7 separate regions of the Homo sapiens genome follow, and regions 1, 2, 3, 5, 6 and 7 are each linked to region 4. The links come from fine-mapping of genetic effects on gene expression. A gene starts in region 4. Each other region holds a variant in brackets. All regions are shown on one strand. Distances are from middle to middle.

Region 1 (4,065 bases), 42 kb after region 4:
ATGATGGATGCATTATGGATGAATGAATAGATAGATGTAGAGGATGGAAGGAAGAATGGGTGGATGCACAGATGATTGATTGGATGATTGGATGGATGGTTGGGTGGGTGGGTGGATGATTGGATGGTTGGAGGGATGAGTTTATTGGTCTGAAATCCTTCTTGCTACCTTCCTAGTAGAAGAGACAATATTTTCTTTTATGAAACGATGCAGGAGCCTAACACCTGTGATGTGGGGTGGTAGGGATGCCCCTCAAAAGGCCAAGCACCTGTCTCCCTTCTGCTGCCCTTGTTGACTGATGGAGAATATGCATGGCCCGAGGTACCCTCCCATGGGGCTTTCTGCTGTCTGGCCTCCTGGATGCAGCAGCCCAGCTGCTCTGCAGGGAGCGTGGAGTCTCCCATCTTGTGTTCTGTGTCTGGGAGGCTCAAGTTGGTGTTGGCCTTGGTCCTTGAGGCCCTGAGCCTGAGACCCACAGGCCTGAAATTGCCTCTGGCCTCTCCCGCCTGGAGGCACCTGTTTTATTCCATCTGTGTTTATCTGTTTCTCTAGGAACCGAGGCCCCTCACCACGGGAAGATGCCAGTTTTACTCCAGTGGGGTGGGGTACTTGTACGATGTCTACCAGACAGAGGTGAGCAGGAGCACTGAGATTCATGTGGGTTTTGCTCAGCTAACCCCGCCGACCCCACGCGGTTTTCCCTGCACATAGGCGTGGTCTGAATATTTTGATTCTAATAGTTCCTGGGGGTCACCCCTGCAGCTGGTGAACCGTTGATGCCCCCTGTGTTTGGGACCTTGACATTTCGATGTGCTGTATTTCACTCTGGAGTCAGAGTTCTGGACTTGCTTCATTAAATCACAACAGTCTCAGAGTGCACGTGTCCAGTTCTGTATGGCTCTTCCAATTAGCATTTTTCTAATTTAATTATTGCAATAAGAAGCAAGGATAATACATTTACAGTGTCCGAGAAACTTCTGGATTTCCCTGAGCCACCGACAGCGGCAGTGTGACCTCATTTCTCTTTCCAGGTGAGTGAGATGCGGGGAGTAATGACCCGCGGGCGGCCGCCGCCTTCGCCAGGACCGTCGGAGGGCACAGCTCTGTGACGGCGCTCTCTGTGTGTCTCGCACCTGCCCTGTGTGGATTCCTGGCTTTAACTAAACGCAGCCTCTCATCCTCAGCACGCGTGTCAGAGGAGGAGGAGCTGGAGGCCCTCTCAGTGGCCAGCACCTGCCAGCTTGTCTGGGACTCTCCAGCAGCTGCCGGGAGGCATCGTGTGTGTGTGTGTGTTTATGTGTGTGTGTGTGGGGGGGGGTAGGCAGGAGGCGTCCCGTGTGTGTTTAGGGGGGAGGTGTCCTGTGTGTGTATGTGTATGTGTGTGTGGAGGTGTCCTGTGTGTGTGTGTGGGGGGGGGTAGGCGGGAGGCATGCCATGTGTGTATGTGGGGGGGAGGCATCCTGTGTGTGTGTGTGTGGAGGTGTCCTGTGTGTGTGTGTCAGGGGAGGCGTCCTCTGTGTGTGTGTGTGTGTGTGTGTGTGTGTGTGTGTGTGTGTTGGGGGGTGTCCCCTGGCCAGGGCTTTCAAGGTTGTCACACAGAGGTGGCAGGTGTCTCTTCTGAGGCTGCCAGTGCTCAAGCCTGGGGGGAGAGCGCCCTGGGACGGGGCCTGTTCTGCCGCCCTCCGGGCTCTCAGGCTTCTGTGCACCCCACGCCGAAGGCCTCCTGGGCTCTGTCCTTCTGCCCACGCACCCTGATATTTCCCTCTGCTCCTGGGATCATGGAGAAGCAAGGCCTCTCCTCTGAGCCCCGATTATCCGGCCTCTGGGACCAGCCTGTGCCCCTGACCCCTCCTGCAGGAAGGGTCCTGGCCCCCGAGCCCCCAAGCCTCTGTGTCTGGAGTCGGGGGAAAGTCGGGGGAGGCAGCTGCTTGGCTGGGCCTCAGTGGCCGCTCCCAGCTCCCATGAGGCAGCCCTGCCCTTGGTGGGGTGGGTGAGGTGGTGGGCACCGGCATGTGACCTGACAAGGCCTCTCTGCCCCAGGTCACCTGTCACTCCCTGGACGGCAAGTGCCAGCTGAAGGTGAGAAGCAACACCTGTTACTGCTGTGACCTCTATGCCTGCGGGAGGTGAGGGGCACCGGGGACCCCCATATCTACACCTGCGGGAGGTGAGGGGCGCTGGGGACCCCCGTATCTACACCTGCGGGAGGTGAGGGGCGCTGGGGACCCCTATATCTACACCTGAGGGAGGTGAGGGGCGCTGGGAACCCCCGTATG[T/C]GCCTGCAGGGGTGAGGCCTCCATCCTTCTGCTCCTGACATCACCCCCCCCACACCCCTGCACCTACATCGTCTCCTTTACTCCTTAGATGTTTACATGAGGAAAGGACATTGAGTCCATTTCACAGATGAAAAGACAGAGGCTCTGAAATGTTGATCTGCCCAAGAGGACACAGCCCGTGTGTGTCGGGCGAGAGTTTAAACCTGGCCTGGCCTCTGAGGCCCCAGGCATGGCCCCCTCTTGGGACAGGGGCCCGTGACCCCGACGGCCTTCCCATCCTGGCGTGAAGACAGAGATGGCTCAGCCGGGGCCCAGACACCCGTCCTGCCAGGCCATCGAGGCGGAGGGGCGGGCCCGCCAGGCCCAGTTGCCGCTCTTTGCCACTGTGGGCCCCAGGTGGGGAGCCTCACAGGCCAATCCCATCAGACATAGGTTTGATCTCCCAGAGCAGTGCAGGGATGGGCGTTGACTGGGCTCCAGCCCTGATTTCCTCCCCCAGCCCTGCAGGGCTCAGGTCCAGAGGACACAAGTTTAACTTGCGGGTGGTCACTTGCCTCGTGCGGTGACGCCATGGTGCCCTCTCTGTGCAGCGCAGAGCCCTCGCCCGCCTACTATGAGTTCATCGGCGTCAGCGGCTGCCAGGACGTGCTGCACCTGTACCGCCTGCTCTGGGCCTCTGCAGTTCTGAACGTCCTGGGCCTGTTCCTGGGCATCATCACCGCCGCCGTCCTGGGGGCCTTCAAGGACATGGTGAGGCCCCTTGGTGGGACCCCCGCTGCTCACTGGGAGCCGGGGCTCCGGGTCCATTTCCCCGGGGTGGGCTGGGGGGCCTCCAGCCCTCACTTTACAGATGGGGCACTGAAGCCCATGCGTCTGTCAGCAGGGTGTCAGGGTGACAGCTGGCGTGCACCGACTCACCTCGGGGCCGTCCTGTCCCAAGCCTGTCACAAGAATCACCTGATTTAATCCTTGCCTCCCCGCTGAGGTGGGCACAGCCGTCCCCAAGAAACAATGTTCAGCTCCAAGAGGGAGGCCCAGCCCTTGTGCACTAAGCTCCCATCATTAGCAACTGCCTGGGGCTTCAGATGGGCAGGTCTGGGCTGGGGCTGAGCTGATGCCTTAGCAAACCCCAGAGGCGAGACCCATACAGCCAGGATTGGCCTGGGCAGGAGGAGGGAGGGAAGGGGCCCCTCGCGGGAGGTGGGCTGGACCCATCCTGGAAAGGCCGGCCCTCGCCCGGGAAACCACAGGGAAATCACTGGCCCGGGCCGGATGTCCTCTCTCTTCTCCCTCCTCTGCCCTCTCCTGGCGCCTGTTTCAAACCAGATGTTCTCGTGGTGTGCGGCCAGCAAACCCCGCCCCCTGAACTTGCAGAGAAGCTGTAAGGGATGGGCAGCCAGGAGTGAGGGAGCCCCAACCCCCAGAGTATCCAAACGGCAGCCCAGGGACGAGGGGCGCCCCCTCTTGCACCCACATGAGGAGGCCTGGCAGCACCAGGCAGACGCACATCATGCAGGCCAGACCCGGCCCAGCGAGGCAGCGAAAACACTCCTGAGCGGCTTCTCCATGCCCTATTCGTCCCAGAGGCTGTCCATGACTAAAAATTAGCTCAGCTGGGAACCCTCCTGCCATCTGCTTCTCAGCTCCTCCTTTTCTCAACACTTTTGTGCTTCCAGACAAAACTGGTGAAGCTGAGAGTGACCCTGGCATCCCGAGGTCCAGCCCTCTGGCTCCCCACCCAGTGGCCCCCCAAGCCCCACCCTGGGCCCCCAGACGCCCGCACACCAAC
Region 2 (4,065 bases), 93 kb before region 4:
ACACCTGGGAACAGTGCTGAGTGAGAAATGCAGGTCCTGAAAGGCTACATAGTGTCTGACTCCATTCATGTGACGTGCTTAGAGAAGTCGTGGTTGCCGGGCATTGAGCAGGGCGGGCTGGGGGAACTTCGGTGCATCTGTGAGCAGCACAGGAGGGTCCCGTGGATGGAGGCGGCCTCTGTCTCAGCCATATGGATGCCAATATCCTCGCTACTTGGCAAGATGTCATCATTACAGGAGACAGAGTTAAGGGTACACAGGATCTCTCTGGATTGTTTCTTAACATGGCATGTAAATCCACAATTATCACAGAATAAAGAGTTTAATTAAAAAGGGATTTTCAGGGCCAAATGAATTTGGGAAACGACATACTTTACTTCTCTTTGAGAGACACGTTCACTCTGAAATCACTGAATAAACCCTGTGATGGACACGTTTCACATATTTTTAACTTTGCTTGTTTAACATATTTAACTTTATTTAACCGAACGCTTCCCAACATGACTGCAGGTGGAACGGCCCCCAGTCCAACAGGAAGCCATCCTCCTCAGACCCTACGCCTCCACAGCATCAGCACCACCTGTGAGCTTGTTACAGGTGCAGTCTTGGCCCACCTGGCCACTGAAGCAGACTCTTTATTCCAGCAAGGTCTCCGGGCGATTCATGTGTGTAGCTGTTTGAGGCATGAACCAGGACAGGCAGCGAGACGTCAGCAGAGACGGCTACACTTCACAAAGCACCACAGTTGCCCCATTGGGTGAGCAGGCAGGAAGGAGTTAACGTGATCCGCCCAAGGTCACTGCTGTGAAGGGCAGGGCTGGGCCCGTGCAGGGCTCCTGGTGAACGATGGGATATCACTCACCTCAAATATTTACTCGTGATCCACCTGCCAAAGCCCTCAGGAGACCGTGGGGACGTCGGCTCGGTCTGCGGGCCCTCGCTTCGGCCTCTGTAGACCCTGCCAGGTGCAGCCCCCAGTGCCCTCCCACAGTTGCCTCTTCTCCCACGTGGAATGGGGTGGGCTGACAGTCTCCACCTCTCTATGCTCCGGCATTCTTCCTTTCTGCGACCCTTTGCTTCCTCCCTGTGTGAGCTGGAACCAATCCCCTGCTGAATTCCTCCTCATTCTTCTCCAAACCTTTATTGAGTACCTACTGTGTGCTGGAATAAGACAGGCAGGGCCATGCCCTCATGAAGCTGACAATCCTATTGGTGTGACCATCCCCAGGTGTGTCCCAGGTGTGTTGCAGGTGTGTCCGAGGTATGCCCCAGCTGTCCCAGGTGTGCCCCAGCTGTCTCAGATGTGCCCCAGCTGTCCCAGGTGTGTCACAGCTGCATTGCAGGTGTGCCCCAGTTGCATTCCATGTGTGCTCCAAGTGTGTACCAGCTGTCCCAGGTGTGTCTCAGGTGTGCCCCAGCTGTATCCCAGGTGTGCCTCAGCTGTCTTAGGTGTGTCTCAGGTGCATCCCAGGTGTGTCTCAGATGTGCCCCAGCTGTCCCAGGTGTGCCCCAGCTGTCCCAGGTGTGCCCCAGCTGTCTCCAGTGTGTCCCAGCTGTGCCCCAGGTGTGTGTCCTAGGTGTGCCTCAGCTGTCTCAGGTGTGCCCCAGGCATATCCCAGGTGTGCCCCAGCTGTCCCAGGTGTGTCCTACGTGTGCACCAGCTGTATCCCAGGTGTGCCCCAGGTGTGTCTCAGATGGGTCCCAAGTGTTCCCCAACTGCATTTCAGGTGTCTCAGGTGTGCCCAAGCTGTCCCAGGTGTGTCCAAGATGTGCCCCAGGTGTGTCTCAGGTGGGTCTCAAGTGCCCCAGCTGCATTTCAGGTGTCTCAGGTGTGCCCCCCAGTGCATCCCAGGTGTGTCCCAGGTGTGCCCCAGGTGCATCCCAGGTGTGTCCCAGGTGTGCCCCAGCTGTCTCAGGTGTCTCAGGTGTGCCCCAGGCATATCCCAGGTGTGCCTCAGCTCTCCCAGGTGTGTCCTACATGTGCACCAGCTGTATCTCAGGTGTGTCTCAGGTGTGCCCCAGATGTGCCCCCGGTGTGTCTCAGGTGGGTCCCAAGTGTTCCCCAGCTGCATTTCAAGTGTCTCAGGTGTGCCCCAGGTGTGCCCCCGCTGTCCCAGGTGTGTCCAAGATGTACCCCAGGTGTGTCCCAGCTGTCCCAAGTGTGTCTCAGGTGTGCCCCAGGTGTGTTCCAGGTGTTCCCCAGCTGTCCCAGCTGTCCCAGGTCTCAGGTGTGCCCCAGGTGTGTTCCAGGTGTTCACCAGCTGTCCCAGCTGTCCCAGGTCTCAGGTGTGCCCCAGGTATGTTGCAGGTGTTCCCCAGCTGTCCCAGCTGTCCCAGGTGTGTCCCAGGTGTTCCCCAGGTGTGTCCCAGCTGTCCCAGGTGTGTCCCAGATGTGCCCCAGGTGTACCCCAGGTGTTTCTCAGGTGGATTCCAGGTGTGTCCCAGGTGAGCCCCAGCTGTATTCCATATGCGTCCCTCTGAGTGGGGCCTTGGTTTGATGTAGCTCCGGGGATCTTCTGCTCCCTGGTCCTGGTGTCACCAGCA[A/G]CTGCCTCTTGACAATCCTGCCTTGCCTGCAAACCCCAGGTGAGAAGAAGACAAATGACTGGGAACTGACCCCTCAGTAAGCGCTGGTGGTCTCACCTACAGACCCCCAGGAAGCTGGTCACTGTGGGCTTCTTTTCCTCTCTAAATTCCTATTATCAGGTGGTTTTCTTTCTCATTTGCTATTTTCTTAAAAATAAAAATAGGGAAAAACAGCCTTTGTAAATTACGGTTTCTTCCGGCTCCATCCTCTCCGTCAGGCCCACATCCCAAGGAAACAGCAGGCTTGAGCCTGGCTGCTGAAGCCAGGGGCTGGATGGAGCAGCTCAGAACAGAGCTTTGAGTGCCTCTCCAGCCAGGGGCCCCAGAAGCCTGGTGGTTGTTTGTCCTTCTCAGGGGAAAAGTGAGGCGGCCCCTTGGAGGAAGGGGCCGGGCAGAATGATCTAATCGGATTCCAAGCAGCTCAGGGGATTGTCTTTTTCTAGCACCTTCTTGCCACTCCTAAGCGTCCTCCGTGACCCCGGCTGGGATTTAGCCTGGTGCTGTGTCAGCCCCGGGCTCCCAGGGGCTTCCCAGTGGTCCCCAGGAACCCTCGACAGGGCCAGGGCGTCTCTCTCGTCCAGCAAGGGCAGGGACGGGCCACAGGCCAAGGGCAGCAGTCAGGCCTGCTCTGTCTGTGAACGCTCCCGGCTTGGCCTCGGCTGATGGGCCCTCACGCCTGAAGCGGGCAGGAAGCTCCGGGATGGATTTCGGGTCTTTGGAGACCGTGGTGGCCAACTCTGCCTTCATCGCCGCCCGAGGCAGCTTTGACGGCAGCAGCTCCCAACCCTCCCGGGACAAGAAGTACCTGGCCAAGCTCAAGCTGCCCCCGCTGTCCAAGTGTGAGTCCCTCCGCGACAGCCTCAGCCTGGAGTTTGAGAGTGTGTGCTTGGAGCAGCCCATCGGCAAGAAGCTCTTTCAGCAGTTCCTACAATCGGCAGAGAAGCACCTGCCGGCCCTGGAGCTCTGGAAAGACATCGAGGACTATGACACGGCAGACAATGACCTCCAGCCACAGAAGGCCCAGACCATCCTGGCCCAGTACCTGGACCCCCAGGCCAAACTCTTCTGCAGCTTCCTGGATGAGGGGATAGTGGCGAAGTTTAAGGAGGGGCCTGTGGAGATCCAGGACGGGCTCTTCCAGCCCCTGCTGCAGGCCACCCTGGCACACCTGGGCCAAGCCCCCTTCCAGGAGTACCTGGGCAGCCTGTACTTCCTGAGGTTCCTGCAGTGGAAGTGGCTGGAAGCCCAGCCCATGGGGGAGGACTGGTTCCTGGACTTCAGGGTCCTAGGGAAAGGGGGCTTCGGGGAGGTGTCGGCCTGCCAGATGAAGGCGACCGGCAAGCTGTATGCCTGCAAGAAGCTGAACAAGAAGCGGCTGAAGAAGAGGAAGGGCTACCAGGTGAGCAGCGCGACCCGGCCAGCAGGGATGGGGTGGCAGGGTGCAGGGATGGGGCGGCAGGGTGCAGAGGGCCCCCAGGTCAC
Region 3 (4,065 bases), 59 kb after region 4:
CTGCTCAGGGACACGGGTTCTTTTCGGGGAGGCAAGCGTGTTTGCAGCGTGTTCTGGATGGGGAGAGGTGCAGTTACTGGTCAGGGACACGAGTTCTTTTCGGGGAGGCAAGCGTGTTTGCAGCGTGTTCTGGATGGGGAGAGGTGCAGTCACTGGTCAGGGATACGAGTTCTTTTCGGGGAGGCAAGTGTGTTCTAAGCGTGTTCTGGATGGGGAGAGGTGCAGTCACTGGTCAGGGACACGAGTTCTTGTGGGAAGAGGAGTGTCCGGGAGCCAGATGGCAGTGATGGGTGGACGGCCCCGTGGATGGACTGACCACCGACCCATGCTCTGCACTCATGAGGCGTGGCTATTGCTGTGTGAATCACATCTCCATGGAAACGGGAGTGGGAGAAACGGGCCCCAAGGATGTTGTGAAGATGGCCTTATGGGGCTGCACTGGTGACTTGGACAGTGCTGGCCACCGGCCCTGCTCAGTGAACAAGAGCCATGGTCATCACCCTCGCCACACAGAGCAGCTCCTCCTGCAGACTTGGGGACCCCGTGGCCACCAGACCCCGCGGTGGGAGCAGAGATGCCTCCGAAACTCTGGAGACCCACAGAGGCAGAAGAGGATTCCACGAGGCCGGGGCCCGTCAGCAGATCCTCAGACGGCGACACGCGCCACTTCCTTTTCTGTTTCCTAGACCTTTTAACTGATGGAATTCAGTAAGCAGAAAACGTGCTTGAAACAAGGGCACCATGGAGCGGACCCTCCCCCTCTCCCCTCGTGGAGTCCTTGACCCTGGGGCAGGTGACCCTTCTTGCTTTGCAGGCAGGGGCTGTGGCTGGAGCTTCTCCTACAAATGGGCTGTGCTGGGATTAGCCCGGCTGTACATTTGCTTTATGCTTCCGTTGGCATTTAAAAATCTGATGTTCATATTTGCCGTATTACGTGAAGTAGGACGAAACGTTCCTTCTTGCTTAGAGCAGTGTTTCCCCAGAGGTGCCCGGGCCCAGGGGACAGTGGCCAACCTCTGGAGACATTTCGTGTTGTCATGAGGCTGGGTGTCCAGGAGGGGGCGATGCTGCATCTGCTGTGCACAGGACGCGGCCACATCAAAGGACCCCACCTGCAAAACACATGCCCAACCTCCTTCCTCCTCTCCAGCCCAGAGTCAGGGCTGTCCCCCCTCCCTCCAGGGGACACATCCCCCCTCCCTCCACGGGATACATCCCCCCTCCCTCCACGGGACACATCCCTCCTCCCCCCACGGGACACATCCCCCCTCCCCCCACGGGACACATCCCCCCTCCCTCCAGGGGACACATCCCCCCTCCCTCCACGGGACACATCCCCCCTCCCTCCACGGGACACATCCCCCCTCCCTCCAGGGAACACATCCCCCCTCCCTCCAGGGGGCACATCCCCCCTCCCTCCACGGGGCACATCACCCCTCCCTCCAGGGGGCACATCCCTCCTCCCTCCAGGGCGCACATCCCTCCTCCCTCTAAGGGGCACATCCCTCCTGCCTCCCCAGGGCACCAGCACTTGCACCACGTGCTCTGTCTTCCCATCCTCTTGCACACCCCAGACATGCCTGGTTGTGGAGGGTGCCAGGTCGCCAACGTGACAGGCCTGGCTGGGCCTCTGTGTTGCAATTCCTAGCACCATTGGTTTTGCTTGTTTGGGACAGTGGTTATTATAACTTCTGGCACCCCCGGAACTCTAAGAAAACAATACTAGGAAACAGAAGTTCCTGATTCGTCTGGAGGCAGAGCAGAAACCCAGGCGGAGGGTTGTGTCCTGAGGACACTGGTGACTGTAGCCTGTGTCTGTGGGGGCCTCCCCACGTCTCTGTCCCTGAGACTGGCCGTTGCCTGTTTTTGCTCCTGGCCGTCTTGACTTGGGGAGGATGGAG[G/T]TTGGGCAGGAGCAGGCTCCCAGCCGGCTGGGGAACATTATGGGAGAGCACTGGGGGGCACCCACCAATGTGATCTGACGGACGCCGCAGTGCCGGGCTGGAGGCCGGGATCTGAGGGACGCCGCGGTGCCGGGCTGGAGGCCGGGATCTGAGGGACGCTGCGGTGCCGGGCTGGGATCTGACGGACACCGCGGTGCCGGGCTGGAGGCCGGGATCTGAGGGACGCCGCGGTGCCGGGCTGGAGCCTGGGATCCCAGCGTGCGGCTGTGGCCCCTGTGGCCGTGTGAGGCCGTGCAGTGGGCAGTGCAGGGCTCTCCTGGGGCCCAGGGGGCTGTGTTCCACGGGCTTCTTGGAGCTCTGCTCAGCTGGCTCTGGCATCGTCGGGGTCAGACGAGTTGGCCTGCTTAGCGAGCCGTCAGCATCCACGCCTGGGCCTCCCAGAACTGGGCTTCTGTGCTGATGGCCAGATCCGAGCCCTGGGCCCGACCATCCTCAGCCCAACCAGCACCTGGACATCCCGGAGCCAGCGTGGAGGCCTGGGCTGCGGGTCCCCGACCGTGTGAGCAGCCGGTGGCCATCTGTCCCGGCCCGAGTGGAGAAAGCGCATCTGCCTGCGGAAGGTCCACGTGCTGCTGGGCGAGGCTGGCGAGAGCCGTCACACACACGCGGGGCCGCTGGCGGCAGATGGACGTTTCCGAAGGGAGCCGGCAGGAGCCTGACGTCTGCCCTCTGAGGCCAGGGCCTCCCCCGTCACTATTTTCTCACGGTACCGAAGCGAAAGTTGCCTGCAATACCTCTTAGACTAGGTTGAAGTCCTGAATTCAGGCTGCAGCCCTCAATCAACAGAACTTCTGCCCAGGTGCTGCCAAGATTTTGGGGAGAACAAGAGGCCCTTGCCCGGCGTGTCCAGAGCAAGTGGCATCATGCCCACGATGGCGCAGGGTCATGGGATGTGGCCCGAGGAGCCCATAACTGGCACCGGTCAACAAGAGCCCCAGAGACACAGGGTGGGCCTGCCAGGGACCCTCAGGGACCACCAGGGCCTGGAGGCTCCAGCGTAGACGAGCTGGGCGGCTCTGGACGGCAGGGGATGGGGCCCCCTGTGCATGGCCCCTGGCAAGGTGCCTGGCTGGCCGTCCATCCGTGGGGTGAGCTCGGCCCAGGCGGGCAGGGTCCCTCCAGGTGGGCATGAGTGTTGCTGGCTCCCGAGCCTTGGAGAAGCTCTGCCCATTCCACAGCCGTCAGGCCGGGGGCCAGAGGGAAGCCGCTCCTTCCCGGCCCGAGGCTGCCCCTCAGGAGCCCACTCGGCCGATGCCACCTTGTCAGTCCAGCCAGCGGGGCCTCCCCTGTGGCCTTCAAAGCCACAGGCCTCTTTCTAGAAACCTCTTTGCAGTTCATTTGTGGCGATTTATCCCTGGATGGGTTCTCATGGATTCTATCCTTCTTCTCCACCCGACTTTTCTCTAGGTCAAGTGCTGACCCCAGCCAGGCAGAGGCAAAGATGCCCCGACGCACAGCCTGTCCTGCCCGGTGGGCGCAGCTCTGGGACTGACTGGTGGGAGGTGGGGCTGCTCCGAGCTGCCCCGTCTCACTCCTGCCCAGGGAGCTCCGAGCACGGGTGGGGGTTTGGTCTTAAAGTGGAATCCTGGTTTGGGCCTCAGAGCTGAAACCCTCCCTGATCCCCCGTGTGGCCCCTGCAGTGACCGCATCCACCCTGGGGACCCATGTTTGGCCCAGAGGCTCGAGCACAGGTGGCCGCGTCCCACGGGAGCGTCAAGCCATGAGTCTTGGTCGTCCCCTTGGGACCAAGGAGAAGCAGTGACTCCGTGGCCCCCACCAGCTGCGGCTCCGACATCCTTCCAGGAGGCAGGCAGGGTCCCGACTGCATTTCAGGCACCTGCCTGGCCGCGTTCCGGCTGCCCTGACCTTCCCTGCAGACTTGTGGCCTGCTGGGGTCAGAGAGCACCAGTGACCGCTCCACCCCTTGCAGACAAGGAAGCTGAGGCTGAGGGACATGGGGACCCTGCCAGTGGGGACGCGGGAAGCAGGGCTGGCTTTGCTCCTGGCAAGCTCTACCCCAGACCGACACAGAGAAAGCAGTTTCCCTTTCTCAACAGAACACACTTGAGGCCCGGAAGCAAGTGGATCTGTGCAGGAGGGTGGG
Region 4 (4,065 bases):
CAGCTTCCATTCTGCTATCCTACAACTACTCTCCAGTAATCCTATGTGTAGGACCCTCCAATAACCCCCACATCACTCGGAGCAAAGGCCAGAGGCCCTGCGGCTCACCCCTGATGTCCTCCACCTGGTCCCCACAAGCCTCTGGCACCCTGGTCTCCTTGCTGCTCCCCCTGGGCCTGGATGGCTCCACCCCAGGGCCTTTGCATGGAGGTTCCTTTTCCTCAGACCCTCTGCCCCAGATGTCTGGGTGAGCAACCACCTCCACGCCCTCAAGCTTGGTCTTCAACATCACCTGTCAACAAGCTCTCTTTTCACTACTTAAAAACCACAGCTCCCTCCCTCTCCCACACTATACTTTCTATTTTGTTTCTTTACCTCTCTTTCCTTTTTCTGTGGCCTGCATTACCTGGCTGTGTATGTATGTATGTGTGTATGTGTGTGTATGTATAAGTGTGTATGTGTGTGTATGTGCATGTGTGTGCATGTATGTGTGCATGTGTATGTGTGTGCATGTGTGTATGCATGCATGTGTGTATGTATATGTGCATATGTGCATGTATGCACGTATAAGTGTGTATGTATGCATGTGTGTATGTATGTGTATGTATGTGTGCGTGTATGTATGCACACATGTATGCATGTGTGTATGTGCATGTATGTATGCGTGCATGTATGTATGCACACATGCATGCATGTGTGTATGTATGCATGTGTATATATGCATGTGTGTGTATGTGTGTATGTGCATGCATGTGTGTATGTCTGCATGTGTGTATGTGTATATGTGTGTGTGTATTCCATAGCATGTTGCCCTCTGACATGCTGTGCATTTTTCTTGTTTATTGTATTATTATTCATGGCCTCACTTCCCCACCAGGATCCTTGTTTACGTTGCTCATTGATACATCCCAAGTACCTGGAACAGTGTCTGGTATATCGCGGATGTTTAGTAAGTCTTGAGAGGCTCACTGAGTGAACAGTGTTAATTTTCATGGTTTAAAACTTTATATAAATGGTACCATACTCGCTGCCGTACTTGCTGTCGTACTCGCTGCCGTACTGTGCACTTGCATTTTTGCTCCGCGTTCTGTTTTTGGCATTTATCCACATTGATCCATGTAGCTCTCATTTATTTTAACTGCCATGTGGTATTTCGCTGTATATGCCCATTTCTTTATCGCTTCTCCCCGTGTTGGATATTCAGGGTGTGTCCGGTGCTTTGGACACACAGTGTTGTGAGGAATATTCTGTACGCATCTTCTAGCACATGCATACTTCTTGTGGTAGTTTCTCTCTCACAGTGGATGGCCTATTAGAATGACTAGGGAATTCTTAGCTATTAGTTTGTTCCCAGAAGTTCTGGTTCAATTGATCTGGTCTGGGTTCAGTGCTGCAGAAATGTTTTTTCTTTTAAAGACATTCCTGGATGACTTTAACGACAGCCGGGGTTGAGAACCACGGCTCCTGGCTCGAAGGAGCAGATCTATGTTTGTGTTCTTGGGCATATCTAGAAAGAGATATGCTTTCTTTCTGGCTTGTCATCTACTTGCTTCAATTTTCCTAAAGGTTGCTTTCAAAGTGGTGGCACCATGCGTGATCCCAGCGGTGAATGCAGATTCCCACGTTTTCATTAACATTCTTTAAGTTGTTTGACCCTTGGGGTTTTCTGATAGGATGAGGGTGAAACGCATCCTCTTGTTCCCACAGCGTTCCCCTAATTCCGGGGGCTGAGTTTATTGATCGTTCAAGCATCTTCTTTTGTGACGGGACCGCTGATGTCCTTGACTCAAAGATGTTAAAAATACGTTTAGAAGGATCTTTATTTTTTCCTGCTGCTGTACGAGGCACCCTTTCTGGCCCCGTGTTTCCTTGCCCTTCTTTCCAGCAGCAGATTTTACTCAGAACAACTTCAGTGCTGTGGACACAAAGACGCAGGCCTTGGAGAGGCGGGTCAGCCCTGCCTCGGGGCTGCTGAGTGAGGTGCCAGATGCGTTTGTTCCTCATTTACTCATTTGCGTTTGTTCCTCATTTACTCGTTCCTCGCAGACTGGGTTGTAACACCATGTACCACCCTCTGAACCCAGAGATCAAGGGCTGGCTGGCCCTGTAGCCCCAAGGAGCTCCGTCACCGGCCAATGGGGAGGCGAACCCGTGGTGACCCACTCAGCGGCACCGCCAAGGGCTGAGCGTGGCGCCAGCGGCGGAAGGCCCGGGGTCACCGTCCCAGGCCGGGGCTCCGACCCCGAGTCCGCAGGGTCCTCTCCAGGCACCTTCCATCTGGGGTCTGGCTTCCACTCCCGGCCGCGGCGTCCTGATTTCCAGAAACCAGGCGGCCGCTGGAGGGGAGAAGGGGGAGCGGGCGCAGCGGGGGAGGGAGGAGAAGAAACGCCGGAGAAGGGAGAGTAGAGCGAGGAAGGACGCGAGGCGGGCGGAGCGCGGGGAGGTGCAGGGGGCGGGGAAGGGGCGGCGCCGCGAGGGCGGCTCCTGGCGGCGGGACTGTGGCTGTGGCCCCGGGAGAGCCGGGTGGGGCCTCGGGATGCAGCCGCCGGTGCCCGGGCCCCTGGGCCTGCTGGACCCCGCAGGTGAGCGCGGGGCTGGGGGCTCGTCTCGGCTCCTGCGGGGGAGCGTGGGGACCCCGGGGCTGGGACTACAGGTCCCCGGCCGGCCCGGGCGGAACCTGCGCGGAGACGCGGCACGGGGTCTGGTCCCTCCGCCTCCTTCGAGCTCTGTCTTTGGAACACTTTGCATTTCGCACTGGGGTCGGGCGTTCGTCCTACCGGTTCGTTCATTCATTCTCTCTCCCTGTCTCTCTCTCTGTCTCTGTCTCTGTCTCTCTCGCTCTTTCTGTCTCTGCCTCCTCAGTCTTTGCCTTTCTCTGACTCTGTGTCCGTTCCTCTTGGCCTCTCTCTCCCTGTTACGTTTTATTATGAGGAACAGGCGCCCCAAAGTGCGCTCCTTCCCCATCTCTTCCGTTTATTCCAACCTACACCATTTTCCGGGAAAACTTCGTTTGGAAGAGCGAGGTAGCCTTTTCCTGTTTGAACGTGCAGAGGCGCTCACAGAACTGGACAGTGTTGCTTGGTTTCGGCTCGCCCCTCTCTCGTGTTTCTCCCCGGTGTGTTCACGGAATCTCCAATTCTTCCACTTCCCAGACCAAGCCCGCTGCAGCCTCGGAGCCAGGCAAAGGCTGGGAAAACAGGAAACCTGTTGCGTGTTCACCAGTTCGCAAGCCGGGCTCGGGGGCTCTGCCGGGAAGTGGCCAGGACTGGAAGGATGCCGGGTGTCTTCCTGAGGGGGAGAGGGCTGGGCAGATTTCAGAACAAAAGAGAAACAGAGTTCCCTAGAAAGTGAAGCCCTGACGGCTGGAGGGAGGGATGGAGTGGTGTCTAGGGGGCTCTGCCGCTCCCTCAGAAATAATCCAACACAAACTTCTGGGGATTAACCTCACAACCCTTTTACTGCGGCATCGTTCGGAACCGGACGAATTACTGTTACTTAAAATAATCAAATAATTTGGCTTCTTTCTAAAAGAAACCACTATATGCCTTCCAATCTAAAGCAAAATGCTCTATGGTCAAATGTATTAATGTGGATTAGTCTATTGGTGTTTAATAATGATAACTATTATTATTATTTATTAACTAGTTTTATCATTATTAGAATGCCTTAATGTTTAAAAATAGCATCTGACTTAGATTTTCTTCTGACAAAGAACTTTAAACCTTAAAACAATACTTGGAGCTGGTCTTTTTAGTATATGAAACATTGGTGTATCTGGGTAGGATTATGGGTCTTTTTGTTTGGAGCTGGTCTTTTACTAAAATGTATAAAGCATTGGTGTGTCTGGGGTTGGATTATGGTCTTTCTGCTTTGGTGTGTCGGGGTGGATTATGGTCTTTCTGCTTTGGGGTATCTGGGGGTGGGTTATGGTCTTTCTGCTTTGGGGTATCTGGGGGTGGATTATGGTCTTTCTGCTTTGGGGTATCTGGGGGTGGATTATGGTCTTTCTGCTTTGGTGTGTCTGGGGGTGGATTATGGTCTTTCTGCTTTGGGGTATCGGGGGTG
Region 5 (4,065 bases), 21 kb before region 4:
GGCCTGCACGCCACATGGTCCCCTGCACCCTGCGGCGCCGTGGTCCTCTGCACACTGGGGCACCATGGTCCCCTGCACTCCGGGGTGCCATGGTCCACATCTGCCAGGCGCAGGCTCTGTTGGGCTGTTGGGAGGAGGGGAGCGGGTGTGGAGTCTGGGGGTCTCAGTGCATCTTGGGGTCTCCTTATCTCAGGGTGTCCAGCTGACGGCAGCTGGTGCAAAGTTCCCACCCCTGAGCTGGGGAGCTGAAAATGTTTTCTGTCTTGACCCTGAGTCCCGGAAGCACCTCAGCTGCTCTTGGCGGGCAAAGCCAGGACCGTTTGCTCTCTGACCCTCCTCCCCACTGGGGCTGGTCCGTCTCATCTCCCAGGGGACACTTCAGGCCACGGGCCTTGTGCATAGGGACAGAGCTCCTTGCTGCAACCCCTCTCTGTGTTCCCAGTAGCAGCAGCACTGGAGTCCTAAAGCCATAGCCCGGGAAGACACTCACAGCCCACCTTCTCATACAGCTCGGCCCCACCCACAATGCACCTGGCATTTCCAACTGCACTTTGAACACTGAAGGTTCCCCAAATGCTTTGTGTGTTTTAACTGCAGGAAGTTAGTTCTGTTGCAACTGCCTCCAGGACACACTCCCTCTTGAGGGCCGGCGGTGCTGGCCTGGGTTCCATGGCCTCAGCAGCCGGCTCAGAGGGAGTGCATCCAAGCCGCAGGGAAGCAGTGGTGATGGGCGGCCTGAGGACTCCTTTCCAGAGAGGGCCTCTGAGCTCCTTTTAGGAAAGAACTTCCTTTGAGCCCCGGCCACTGTTGTACCAGTGGGAGAAGAAGCCTGACCCTGCCACATGTGGTCACGGGGAGAGAAGATGGTAGGACGTCCCCGTGAGCCTTGGGGCAGAGCTGGTGGTAGAAAGAAGCCCTGTCTACTCTAATTTGGTGAGAGGGGCCGCGGCAAGTGGCTGATGATGTGACTGATGGAGACAGGGTGGCTTGGGAAGGTCCCACTTGGGGGTGTCACGTCCTGCAGGGAGTGGAAGAGATGGATCCTCCGTAGCCTGGACTGGTGGGTCTCGGCCTCTCTCCCAGAAATGGCAGAGACAGCTGCCTGAGAGTCAGTGCTGCAGTGGGCAGGGCCTATGCCCTCACAGTCCTCAGGCTGCCAGGTCGTCCTCTTCCTGTTGGGGAGAAGAGGACCCTGGCAATCCACAATTTTGGAGATTTGCTGGCTGCAGCCAAAATGGGGACCCAACTCCCTCCTATGTGGTTTTAGAGCTTCTGGAGGGAAGATAGGCCACGCCCCTGGGTGAGGAGCACGTCTTCCCACAGATCCTAAGTCGGCCACACCCTGGGTGAGGAGCACGTCTTCCCATAGGTCCCACGTCAGCCACACCCTGGGTGAGGAGCACGTCTTCCCATAGATCCCACATCGGCCACACCCTGGGTGAGGAGCATGTCTTCCCATAGATCCCACGTCGGCCACACCCTGGGTGAGGAGCACGTCTTCCCATAGATCCCACATCGGCCACACCCTGGGTGAGGAGCATGTCTTCCCATAGATCCCACGTCGGCCACACCCTGGGTGAGGAGCACGTCTTCCCATAGATCCCACGTCGGCCACACCCTGGGTGAGGAGCATGTCTTCCCATAGAACCCACGTCGGCCACACCCTGGGTGAGGAGCACGTCTTCCCACAGATCTCAACAGAACTCCACATCGTCTGGTTTTGTGGAGACTTTCATATGTCCTGTCAAGTTGCCTCATGCACCTGCAGACTGTTCTTGGGAAGCAAACCTGGACTGCAAAATAAACCTCCCGGCCTCCTCCTGTCCTGGCTCTGAGCGTCTGACACTTCTGAGACCTGGGATGTTCAGGAGGAGCTGTGGGGCGTCCAGTGCTTTTTGACATAAAACTACCCATCCAGGTGCACCTGAGCAGGCGCAGGCAGGCACAGGAGGAGGCCCGTGGGAAGCGGCCTGCAGGACAGATTTCCGTGCCCACTCTTTCTCCTTCCTTCCTTCCTTCCTCCTTCCCTCCCTTCCTTCTCTTTCTTTCTTTTCTCTTCTCTTCTTTCCTTCTTTCCTTCTCTTTCTTTCTCTTTTTCTTTTTTTCCTTTCCTTTCCTTCCTTCTTTTCTTTCTTTCTTTCTTTCCTTCCTTCCTTCCTTCCTTCTTTCCCTCCCTCCCTCCCTTTCTGTTTCTTTTCTTTTCTTTTCTTTTTGAGACAGATCTCTCTCTGTCACCCAGGCTGGAGTGCAGTGGCACAATATCAGCTCACTGTAACCTCTGCCTCCCGAGAAGCTCAGGTTCAAGCAATTCTCCTGCCTCAGCCTCCCGAGTAGCTGGGACTGCAGGTGCCTGCCACCATGCCTGGCTAATTTTTTGTACTTTTAGTAGAGATGGGGTTTCACCATGTTAGCCAGGATGGTCTTGATCTCCTGACCTCGTGATCCAC[C/G]CGCCTCAGCCTCCCAAAGTGCTGGGTTTTTGTATTTTTAGTAAGAGATGGGGTTTCACCATGTTGGCCAGGCTGGTCTTGAACTCCTGACGTCAGATGATCCGCCCGCCTCGGCCTCCTGTTTTGTTTTCTAGAATGTTACACATCGATTAGGTAATGGCTATCAGTCTCACTTCATACACTCTGGAACATGAAAGACTCCATTTCTGATTTTTTAAACCCATTTTAACCTGCCTTGCATTCCTATGGCCCTGGACAGGTAAGCAATCTCATCCTGGCTTCACTGGGATCAGGGGGCTTGGAGGGGCTATGAGTGGTCGCAGCAGTGGAGGGAAGCCTGGCTCCCGGTGCCAAAGAGCCCCGTGGCCCCCCCAGGCCCACCAGCAAGACCCTCTGCCTGTTTTAGGGCTGGGTTGCCAGACACGATACAGGACATCCCAATGAATTTCAATTTCAGATAAATAAGGAATCATTTTTTAGTGTAAGTCTATCCCATGCAGTGTTTGGGACATACTTGACCTAAAAAATGATTCATCATTTTTCTGAAATTCAGATTTAATGGGATGTTCCGCAGTTTTCTTTTGGTTAACTCTGGCAAGCCTGTTGCAGATTATATATTTATCTGTAAGATCAGCAGTGGTTCCACTGCACAGGCAACCTGTTGGGATAAAACCACAAAAGCAGCTTCGTTTTTGGCTTCTGCCATCTCTTGGGTCAGTTGAGTGGTGTTTTCACCCCTCGATGAAACTCATGCTCACCCCATGCATTCATACAAGGCATTCGAAAGCCCTATTGTCACTTTATTTTTTATTTATTTTTTTTTGAGAAGGAGTCTTGCTCTGTCGTCCAGGCTGGAGTGCAGTGGTGCAATCTCGGCTCACTGCAAGCTCCGCCTCCCGGGTTCACGCCATTCTCCTGCCATAGCCTCCCAAGTAGCTGGGACTACAGACGCCCGCTGCCATGCCTGGCTAATTTTTTGTATTTTTCAGTAGAGACGGGGTTTCACCGTGTTAGCCAGTATGGTCTCGATCTCCTGAGCTGGTGATTTGCCGGCCTCGGCCTCCCAAAGTGCTGGGATTACAGGCGTGAGACACGGTGCCCGGCCTCTTGTCACTTTATTTTTAAAAACTTCTAAATCTTTGTGTCCCATGGAGAAAATACATCACGAATGCTGAGTCAATGATCCTACGGAGACACCCCGGCGGGCCCTGCCCAGTTCTGGAGCTCTGACACTGCCTGCCCCCGCCTGTTTGCTCCCCACCCAGGCAGCACCAGCCTCCTCTCAGGGGCTCAGTGTGCGTGGCCCCATAATGGTCACAGCTCCACATGCGATGAGCTTTGGTGCCTCCGTTCCCGCGGGGCTGCAGTGTCTGACGGTGGCGGTGCATGTGTCTCATGCCCACCTGCCTGCAGAGTGGCCCTGCTTCCTGTGGCCAGCCTCGGCCTCTGGCTCTTCAGGGCTGAGCTGGGATGAAGGAAGGCATCCAGGGCTATTCTTGCCTGCCTGGTGCTGCTGCACGTGGCTCGGTGCCCTCCGGGCAGATGTCTCTATGGACTCTTCATCTGGGCCCTCTGTTGTGGGCAGTCTTGGGGTTTCAGGCCCCTGAATCTGGGCAAA
Region 6 (4,065 bases), 37 kb after region 4:
ACTGCCCGGACTTTGTTCAGACCTACCTCTTCTCGTAAACCTAAAGTATGTATTTTGGAAGGGCACGTGCTTGATGTCTGAGCTCTCAGAATGTCTCGTCTGATCTGCTGTGGAGGAAAGTTGCCTTAGAAGAAGGTGCCAGCAGGTGGGAGAACCATCTCTCTGTAACTCACGCAGGGACCGTGCCGGTCTGGGACCCACCTGAGAAGAAAGGTGCCAGCAGGTGGGAGAACCATCTCTCTGTGACTCACGCAGGGACCGTGCCGGTCTGGGACCCACCCAAGGACGCACTGACTTCTGTGGACTCGCTCTCCGGCCCGCTGCCCCAGCCCTACCGCCTCATCACTCACATTTAATGCAAGGTGGCATCGGTGACTGCCAAGCGTGGGCTCACCAGGAAGCCCCCAGTTGACAGCTCTTCCTCTGCTGAAGGATAAAAACACCCAGACTCGCAGTGAGGGTGCCCACTGTTTAAAAAAGAAGCTGCACTTTCCTCCGCAAAAGGGCTTGGCCAGCAGCGTGGTGCGCCCTGGACCGGCTCTGATGGGGCTTCCAGGGAGGACCCCCAGCGGGCCTGTGGTGTGGAGGGTCAGAAGGAGAGGGAGGGGCAGGCGGCCACCACTGGTCCATGGCCTGAAAGGTTTGGGCCCGCCAGCCCCCACCCCCCGCCTTCTGCTGCTGTGGGGCCTGATGGGAATGCGTCCCACCTGCGAATCCAGCGGGTAGCGTTAGAGCCTTGGCAGATGGGCTGGATTTGGCTTCTCTTTGGGTTGCGGGTGACGATAGGTGTGCAGCCTGGGGCAGAGATGGACACACAGGGCCATGCTGACATCGGGGGAAGAGGCCACAGCAGTTCCACGTGAGGGTCACGGTCGATGGAACTCCTCTCTCCACATACTTGGCTCCCCAGGGAGAAGGAAGGTCGGGGTGCCTCTGCCGGGCGTCTTTGCAAGTGTGAGGAGGAGACCACTCTGCTCGGTCGGCTCTGCTCTGAGTCTGGACGAGCACCCACGCTCGTGCCTGGTGCGCAGGACAGGTCCGAACAGACTCAGGCTTCCCCTGTCCCTGTGTAGCACCATGTGCCCGAGCCACAGGCCCTCCCTCTGCTGTTACCGATGGGTTCTGCTTGTCACTGGGACCTCTTTCCCGAGCCGACAACTCATCCATCGGGACGGAACCAAGCGAGATGCCAACTCGGGGCCACAGTTTTCAGCGGCCATTCAGGAGGGTCTGCTCTGCCCAGCGTGGTACCAAGCCAGGCACCGAGAAAAGAATGACAGCACCCGCCCTCTGGTCAGGGGTCCACGGGGATGGAGACTCCCTGCTAGTTTTTAGGGTTAGGGCAGGACACCCCGCTTTATAGCAGAGTTTGTAGTGGCAAGAAATTGCCAACTGTTTAACTATCCATCAGAGTGCACTGGTTAACTAACGCACTATAAACCATTCCTGGCTCCAAGCTCCAAGACCATTAGGTAGGAAAAGCAGGTTGTGCGACAGTGTGTGAAGCTGATCCGATGACTGTAAAGGCCTGTGTCAAGCATGCACATGTGTGTGCGTGTGATGAGCACACATTAGGGTTGGGCACACGCCCTGCCGTCTGGGGTTGCTTCTCAGAGGCG[C/T]GTGCCGAGGGCCCGGGGATGGCAACGCCCTTCCGTGCAGAAGGCGCCTGGGTGGGTCTTGCGGAATAGACGCGTGAGGACGACCCGCAGGGTGGAGTCCGGCCTGGCCAGGGCTGGAAGTCATAGGACGAAAGGTAGAGGTGAGAAGAGGCAGTTCTGTGAAAGAAGCCCCGACCTCGAGCTGGGACTTTGAATTGGTTTGCGTTTGAAAACCGGGGTTGGTAAAAGCTGGGCACCCACACCTCTCCTTCTGTTGCAGCTGGTGGCAGCGATCGTGTTTATCAGTTTTGGCGTGGTGGCCGCCTTCTGCTGCGCCATCGTGGACGGCGTATTTGCAGCACAGCACATTGTGAGTACATTGTCATTGTGTGCACAGTCGCTTTCCGGGGCTGAAAGAGTCGACGTGAAAAAAGTACAATTTCATTTTGCAGATCTCAGCTCAGACGGCTTCACCGTCAGTCTCCACGCTGGGGGTTGCCAGTGACTGTCTCTCCTCTCAGTAAGTCTCATTTCCTACACAACGAACTTCCCTCTCCACACAGACTACACACACCACACAACACACAGAGCACACAGCACACACCACAACAGAGCACAGAGCACACACACCACAACAGAGCACACAGCACACAACACACAGAGCACACAGCACACACACAACACAGCACACACCACACAACACACAGAGCACACAGCACACACACCACAACAGAGCACACAGCACACACCACACACCACACAACACACAGAGCACACAGCACACACACAACAGAGCACACAGCACACAACACACAGAGCACACAGCACACACACCAAAACAGAGCACATAGCACACACCACACAACACACAGAGCACACAGCACACACACAACAGAGCACACAGCACACACACAACAGAGCACACAGCACACACACCAAAACAGAGCACATAGCACACACCACACAACACACAGAGCACACAGCACACACACCATAAGAGTACACAGCACACAACACACAGAGCACACAGCACACACACAACACAGCACACAGCACACACCACACAACACACAGAGCACACAGCACATACACAACAGAGCACACAGCACACACACAACAGAGCACACAGCACACAACACACAGAGCACACAGCACACACACCATAACAGAGCACACAGCACACAACACACAGAGCACACAGCACACACACAACAGAGCACACAGCACACACCACACAACACACAGAGCACACAGCACACAACACACAGAGCACACAGCACACACACAACAGAGCACATAGCACACACCACACAACACACAGAGCACACAGCACACAACACACAGAGCACACAGCACACACACAACAGAGCACATAGCACACACCACAGAGTACACACCTCACACACCACACAGAGCACACGCCTCACACACCACACAGAGTACACACCTCACACACCACACAGAGCACATACCACACAGAGTACACACCTCACACCACACAGAGTACACACCTCACACCACACAGAGCACACACCTCACACACCACACAGAGCACACACCACACAGAGCACACACCACACAGAGTACACACCACACACACCACAGAGAGCACACACCACACACACTACACACACCACACAGAGCACACAGCACACACACCACACAGAGCACACACCACACACACATACACACCACACCACGCTCTTTTCACCTCTAAATGAACAGGTTTTCTCTAAAGTCGCAGGCCAAGGAATCGTTTCTGTGTCCTCCTGAGGTGCGTCCTCAGCCTCCGGTGGGCTGCGCCATCCCCCCTCCTCCCTGGCTGGGCTCCTGGGTGGGCTCTCGCCATCTGGGCGTCAGCTGGTCCCCGGGAGCAGCCGAATTGCTTGTCATGAACTCTCAGACCAAACCTGTGATTGTTTCTCCCTCTTTTTCCATAAATCACACTGAAAGGCACTGAAGGTTGGTGTTAGGCCTTTGTCTGCCCCAACGGTTTCATTATATGAAGGCAAGTGTGGGAGCACATTCACAAAACACACGTGCGTGCGCACGCATGCACACACCACGGCCCACATGCTCACACTCGCGCGCACACACACACTCCCACGGAGGTGCGTCATGGGAGCTTTCTCAGCGGGTGGCTGGGTGACTTGCTATTCTATGGCTTCCAGACGGTGGTTTCCACTGTGCTCCAGGCGCCCGTGGCCGTGGCCCCGCCGAGGAGCAGGGTCCAGTCTCTGACCGCAGTCGGGGGTGTCCCCAGGTTCCGGACCTCGGGCGCCTGTCCATTCTGGAGGGCCACGCGGGGCATGCATCTAGGCAAGTGTGGGAGCCTCTTGGTTAGAAACAAAGCAGGGCCCCTGGCCGGGGCCTCCCAGGGCTGACTTTAGGACGGATGCGCAGACAGCACTCACTGGAGCTCAGATGCCATCGAGGAAAATGTGGCACTGCCTCGTGTGCTGCTGAG
Region 7 (4,065 bases), 50 kb after region 4:
AGCCACCTTCAGCCATGCCCGGGACACAGCAGCTGTTGGGCTCAGTGGAGATGACCAGGGCCTGACAACATCTCCTCGTGGAGGGATCCCTGCACCTCATACCTCAGTCTCCCCTCTCACTTCGAATATAAAGCTGGGGCCCTGCTCCCTGGGAACACAAGGCCCCTGCTGGAGGTCTGGCCTGGAAACATCTTTTCCATTTCTGTGACGGGGGAAGATGTGGTCCCCAGGGTCAGATGGCGGGAGCTTTTGCCAGCGACCCTGCAGTGGTCACTCCTGCAGGCAGGCGCGTCTGCTTGGTGCCACAGGCAGCTTCATCCTTCCCCAAGCCTCCTGCCCCTGCCCCAGGGACGTCCCCATCATGGCAGGGACCGTGCCCCCAGGGCCACAGCCCTGTCCTGGGGGCTTCTCTCTGGCCTCCTGGTCTCCCGTGGGAAGTTTGCCAAGCCCAGAACTGGAGGCCCGCAGGGGTAGAAGGAGGAGGCCCGCAGGGGCAGAGGTATCTCCAGGGACGCTGGGCCTGCAGGTGCTCCCCAAGCGGCTCTACACAGACACAGACTTGGAATCGCATGGGTGCCAAGAACGTGCAGCCCAGAGCATAGCCTCGGTGGCCCATGCTGTCTTCCATCCTCAACCTCAGCCGCTGCCCCTCAGGGCCCCAGAGGAGAGACAACACGTGGTTCCATCAGCCCCTTCCTCTTCTCTGGCTCCAGGGCTGGTTTGGGCCGCCCTGGTGCTGGGGCCCGGCTGTCTGAAGCTCTGGCTGTGAGGGGCCCGGCTTCTCCAAGTTTGCATTCTGACTTGGGACCTTGGAGACAGTGAGGCTTTGTGGAGGGAGGGGCTGGTGACTCCCTCAGGCAGGTGTGTCCTCCCTGCCTGTGAGCCCCACGGAGGTGTAAGATGTGGGGGTGGTCCTTCCCGTCACACGCAGGCTTACGGGATGTGGAGGGTGGTCCTCCCTGTCACACGCAGGCTTACGGGATGTGGGGGGCGGTCCTCCCCGTCACACGAGGGCTTACGGGATGTGGGGGTGGTCCTCCCTGTCACACGTGGGCTTACGGGATGTGGGGGGTGGTCCTCCCCGTCACACGCAGGCTTACGGGATGTGGGGGTGGTCCTCCCCGTCACACGCGGGCTTATGGGATGTGGAGGGTGGTCCTCCCTGTCACACGCAGGCTTACGGGATGTGGGGGGTAGTCCTCCCCGTCACACGCAGGCTTACGGGATGTGGGGGTGGTCCTCCCTGTCACACGTGGGCTTACGGGATGTGGGGGGTGGTCCTCCCTGTCACACGCAGGCTTACGGGATGTGGGGGGCGGTCCTCCCCGTCACACGCAGGCTTACGGGATGTGGGGGTGGTCCTCCCTGTCACACGTGGGCTTATGGGATGTGGGGGGTAGTCCTCCCCGTCACACGCAGGCTTACGGGATGTGGGGGGCGGTCCTCCCTATCACAGGAGGGCTTACGGGATGTGGGGGGTGGTCCTCCCCGTCACACGCGGGCTTACGGGACGTGGGGGGCACAGGGGCAGATCCACTTCATCCCCATGGTGCTCCATCCTCATCCACCCTGGGGCTCTGGGTTTA[C/G]GCAAAGGGTGGATGTTCCCCTCTTCCTCTGGGGAGGCCTGGGGCCCTCAGATGGCCCAGCCAGCCTTTGTGCCAGGCCAGCATGTGTGGGAGCTTAATATACGCACGCTGATAATTGGATTTCAGAGATGGCAAATCAGATGAGGCTCATGTGCTCCTCAGAAGAACAATGGAGGAGGGGCCCTGCTTCCACAGAGATGGAGAGAAAATATTCAGGGTGTTCCATGGAAGTCGTTAGCAGCAGAAAATACTCCCACTTGAGACAGTGGGGGATGGGGAACAGTGACTTGGTGGGGGAGGTTTTGAGCAGTTAATAAAAAGGACAATTTAAAGAGATCACCTTCCTTGCACCCAGCAGCTTTGCCAGGCATGAAGTGCAGGGGAGGACGTGGCATCACAGCAGAAGATGAGTTCCTGCCCCGTTACTAAGAAACATGCCCTCCCTTCCCCTGTGAGATTACTCGTGGGCAGGGCTTGTCCCTAGGGGGGCCCTGTCATTCAGTGGTTAACCCCGTGGTCCCAGGGTTTACTCTGTGGTTCCTGGGGGTTTATTCCATGGTTCCTGGCGGTTTACTCCATGTTCCTGGGGGTTTACTTTGTGGTCCTGGGGGGTTTACTCCATGGTTCCTGGGGTGTTTACTCCGTGGTTCCTGGGAGTTTACTCCATGGTTCCAGGGGTATTTATTCCGTGGTTCCTGGGTGGTTACTCTGTGATTCCTGAGGGTTTAACTCTGTGGTTACTGGGGGTTTACTTCGTGGCTCCTAGGGGTTTGTTCTGTGGTTCCTGGGGGTTTACTCCGTGGTTCTTTGGGGTTTAACTCTGTGGTTTCTGGCGGTGTAACTCTGTGGTTCCTGGGGGGGGGGTTACTCCATGTTTCCTGGGGGTTTACTCCGTGGTTCCTGGGGGTTTACTCCTTGGTTCTTGGGGATTTATGCTGTGGTTCCTGGGGGTTTGCTCCATGGTTCCTGGGGGTTTACTCTGTGGTTCTTGGGGATTTATGCTGTGGTTTCTGGGGGTTTACCTCTGTGGTTCCTGGGGAGATTACTCTGGTTCCTGGGGCTTTACTCCATGGTTCCTCGGGGTTTACTCTGTGGTTTTTGGGGGGAGGTTATGCTGTGTTTCCTGGGGGTTTACTCTGTGGTTCCTGGGGGTTTACTCCATGGTTCCCGGGGGCTTAACTCTGTGGTTCCTGGGGGGAGGGGTTACTCTGTGGTTCCTGGGAGTTTACTCTGTGGTTCCTGGATGTTTACTCCATGGTCCTGGGGGTTTACTCCATGGTTCTTGGGGATTTATGCTGTGGTTCCTGGGGGTTTACTCTGTGGTTCCTGGGGGTTTAACTCTGGTTCCTGGGGGTTTACTCTGTGGTTCCTGGGGGTTTACTCCATGGTTCCCGGGGGTTTAACTCTGTGGTTCCTGGGGGGAGGGGTTACTCTGTGGTTCCTGGGAGTTTACTCTGTGGTTCCTGGATGTTTACTCCATGGTTCTTGGGGATTTATGCTGTGGTTCCTGGGGGTTTACTCTGTGGTTCCTGGGGGTTTAACTCTGGTTCCTGGGGGTTTACTCTGTGGTTCCTGGGGGTTTACTCCATGGTTCCCGGGGGTTTAACTCTGTGGTTCCTGGGGGGAGGGGTTACTCTGTGGTTCCTGGGGGGAGGGGTTTACTCCGTGGTTCCTGAGAGTTTACTCCATGGTTCCTGGGGGTTTACTCCGTGGTTCCTGAGTTTTACTCCGTGGTTCCTGGGGGTTTACTCCGTGGTTCCTGAGTTTTACTCCATGGTTCACTCGGTGGTTCCTAGGGAGTTACTCCATGGGTTCCTGGGGTTTATCTGTGGTCCTGGGGTTTACCCCTTAGTTTCCTTAACTGCTCATCTGCTGTGAAGAAGAGTGGGTGCTACAGAGTTGGAAGTTGGGAGCTCCCAGCAGACTTGAGAGAATGTTCCCTAGTGTCTCACTCTGTCGCCTGTGGCCAGAAACCTGTGTGAGTTTCGGGGGAAGAAAGAAATGAGGTTGGCAGGTGTCCCTGAACCACTGGATCCCATGAGCCTGGGCTGTCAACCTCAACATTGCAGTCCCTCTGAGGAAGGGCCCCATTCTCAGCCTTACCTACACCTGTGCAGAAATTCTGCTGTCAGGATCCAGAGGTCCTGCTAGCTCCCAGGGCGTCTGCAGTGCAGAGCTCTCCAGGGAGAGGCTCAGACAGGCAGCTGGCTTCTCTGGGGATGCTGAACACGCAGGCTCAGACAGGCAGCTGGCTTCTCATGGGACCCTGCAGGCTGGGGCAAGAGGAGCACAGAGCACATCTGGTAGCTTGGAGTTTGAAAAACTCTTCCTGTGTTATTTCTTAGAAGGAGTTTGTTTGCTTTATTTATTTAAAATTTGATTAGAAGTTCCCCCTAGAATTTAAGGGGAAAAAAAGAAAAGAATTAAGATGTGTGTTAGCAGTTGGAGAAAAACTAGAATGTATCAATTTAAAATCTGT

Direction of the effects. Positions count from the first base shown, and alleles are read on the strand shown. Sizes are in standard deviations (SD) of each study's normalised expression. Not every link is listed here.
For the expression in sun-exposed skin of the gene that starts at base 2,493 in region 4, allele C in region 6 goes with a lower level than allele T (moderate effect, 0.49 SD a copy in GTEx).

Evidence for each region. PIP is the estimated chance that this variant, and not a neighbour inherited with it, causes the effect.
Region 1: its variant is fine-mapped to the expression of TMEM255B in whole blood (TOPMed, PIP above 0.99). The same link has a PIP of 0.9 or more in lung.
Region 2: its variant is fine-mapped to the expression of TMEM255B in whole blood (TOPMed, PIP above 0.99).
Region 3: its variant is fine-mapped to the expression of TMEM255B in whole blood (INTERVAL, PIP above 0.99).
Region 5: its variant is fine-mapped to the expression of TMEM255B in whole blood (TOPMed, PIP above 0.99).
Region 6: its variant is fine-mapped to the expression of TMEM255B in sun-exposed skin (GTEx, PIP above 0.99).
Region 7: its variant is fine-mapped to the expression of TMEM255B in whole blood (TOPMed, PIP above 0.99).

Annotation. Positions count from the first base shown.
Region 1 is chr13:113,798,787-113,802,851 of GRCh38, forward strand. TMEM255B (transmembrane protein 255B) reads left to right here. Exons shown (of 9, transcript NM_182614.4): 5 at 553-633; 6 at 2,041-2,126; 7 at 2,867-3,026. Among named protein-coding and RNA genes, the nearest start is that of GAS6-AS1, 15 kb to the right of the region's middle. RefSeq lists an enhancer at 2,374-3,248. The variant T/C (reference allele first, on the strand shown) is at 2,277.
Region 2 is chr13:113,664,104-113,668,168 of GRCh38, forward strand. GRK1 (G protein-coupled receptor kinase 1) reads left to right here and starts at 3,116. Exons shown (of 7, transcript NM_002929.3): 1 at 3,116-3,982. The coding sequence starts at 3,284. The variant A/G (reference allele first, on the strand shown) is at 2,545.
Region 3 is chr13:113,816,075-113,820,139 of GRCh38, forward strand. TMEM255B (transmembrane protein 255B) reads left to right here. Exons shown (of 9, transcript NM_182614.4): 9 at 1-921. All of the region lies in intron 1 of GAS6-AS1 (GAS6 antisense RNA 1), which reads left to right. It also overlaps LOC124903220. Among named protein-coding and RNA genes, the nearest start is that of GAS6-AS1, 2.5 kb to the left of the region's middle. The variant G/T (reference allele first, on the strand shown) is at 1,902.
Region 4 is chr13:113,756,734-113,760,798 of GRCh38, forward strand. It overlaps TMEM255B (transmembrane protein 255B), which reads left to right and starts at 2,493. Exons shown (of 9, transcript NM_182614.4): 1 at 2,493-2,582. The coding sequence starts at 2,537. RefSeq lists enhancers at 1,653-2,154, 2,711-3,212.
Region 5 is chr13:113,735,914-113,739,978 of GRCh38, forward strand. It overlaps GRK1 (G protein-coupled receptor kinase 1), which reads left to right. Exons shown (of 7, transcript NM_002929.3): 7 at 1-1,823. Among named protein-coding and RNA genes, the nearest start is that of LINC00552, 13 kb to the right of the region's middle. The variant C/G (reference allele first, on the strand shown) is at 2,448.
Region 6 is chr13:113,793,270-113,797,334 of GRCh38, forward strand. It overlaps TMEM255B (transmembrane protein 255B), which reads left to right. Exons shown (of 9, transcript NM_182614.4): 4 at 1,879-1,968. Among named protein-coding and RNA genes, the nearest start is that of GAS6-AS1, 20 kb to the right of the region's middle. The variant C/T (reference allele first, on the strand shown) is at 1,620.
Region 7 is chr13:113,806,353-113,810,417 of GRCh38, forward strand. The region is part of intron 8 of TMEM255B (transmembrane protein 255B); the gene reads left to right. Among named protein-coding and RNA genes, the nearest start is that of GAS6-AS1, 7.2 kb to the right of the region's middle. The variant C/G (reference allele first, on the strand shown) is at 1,587.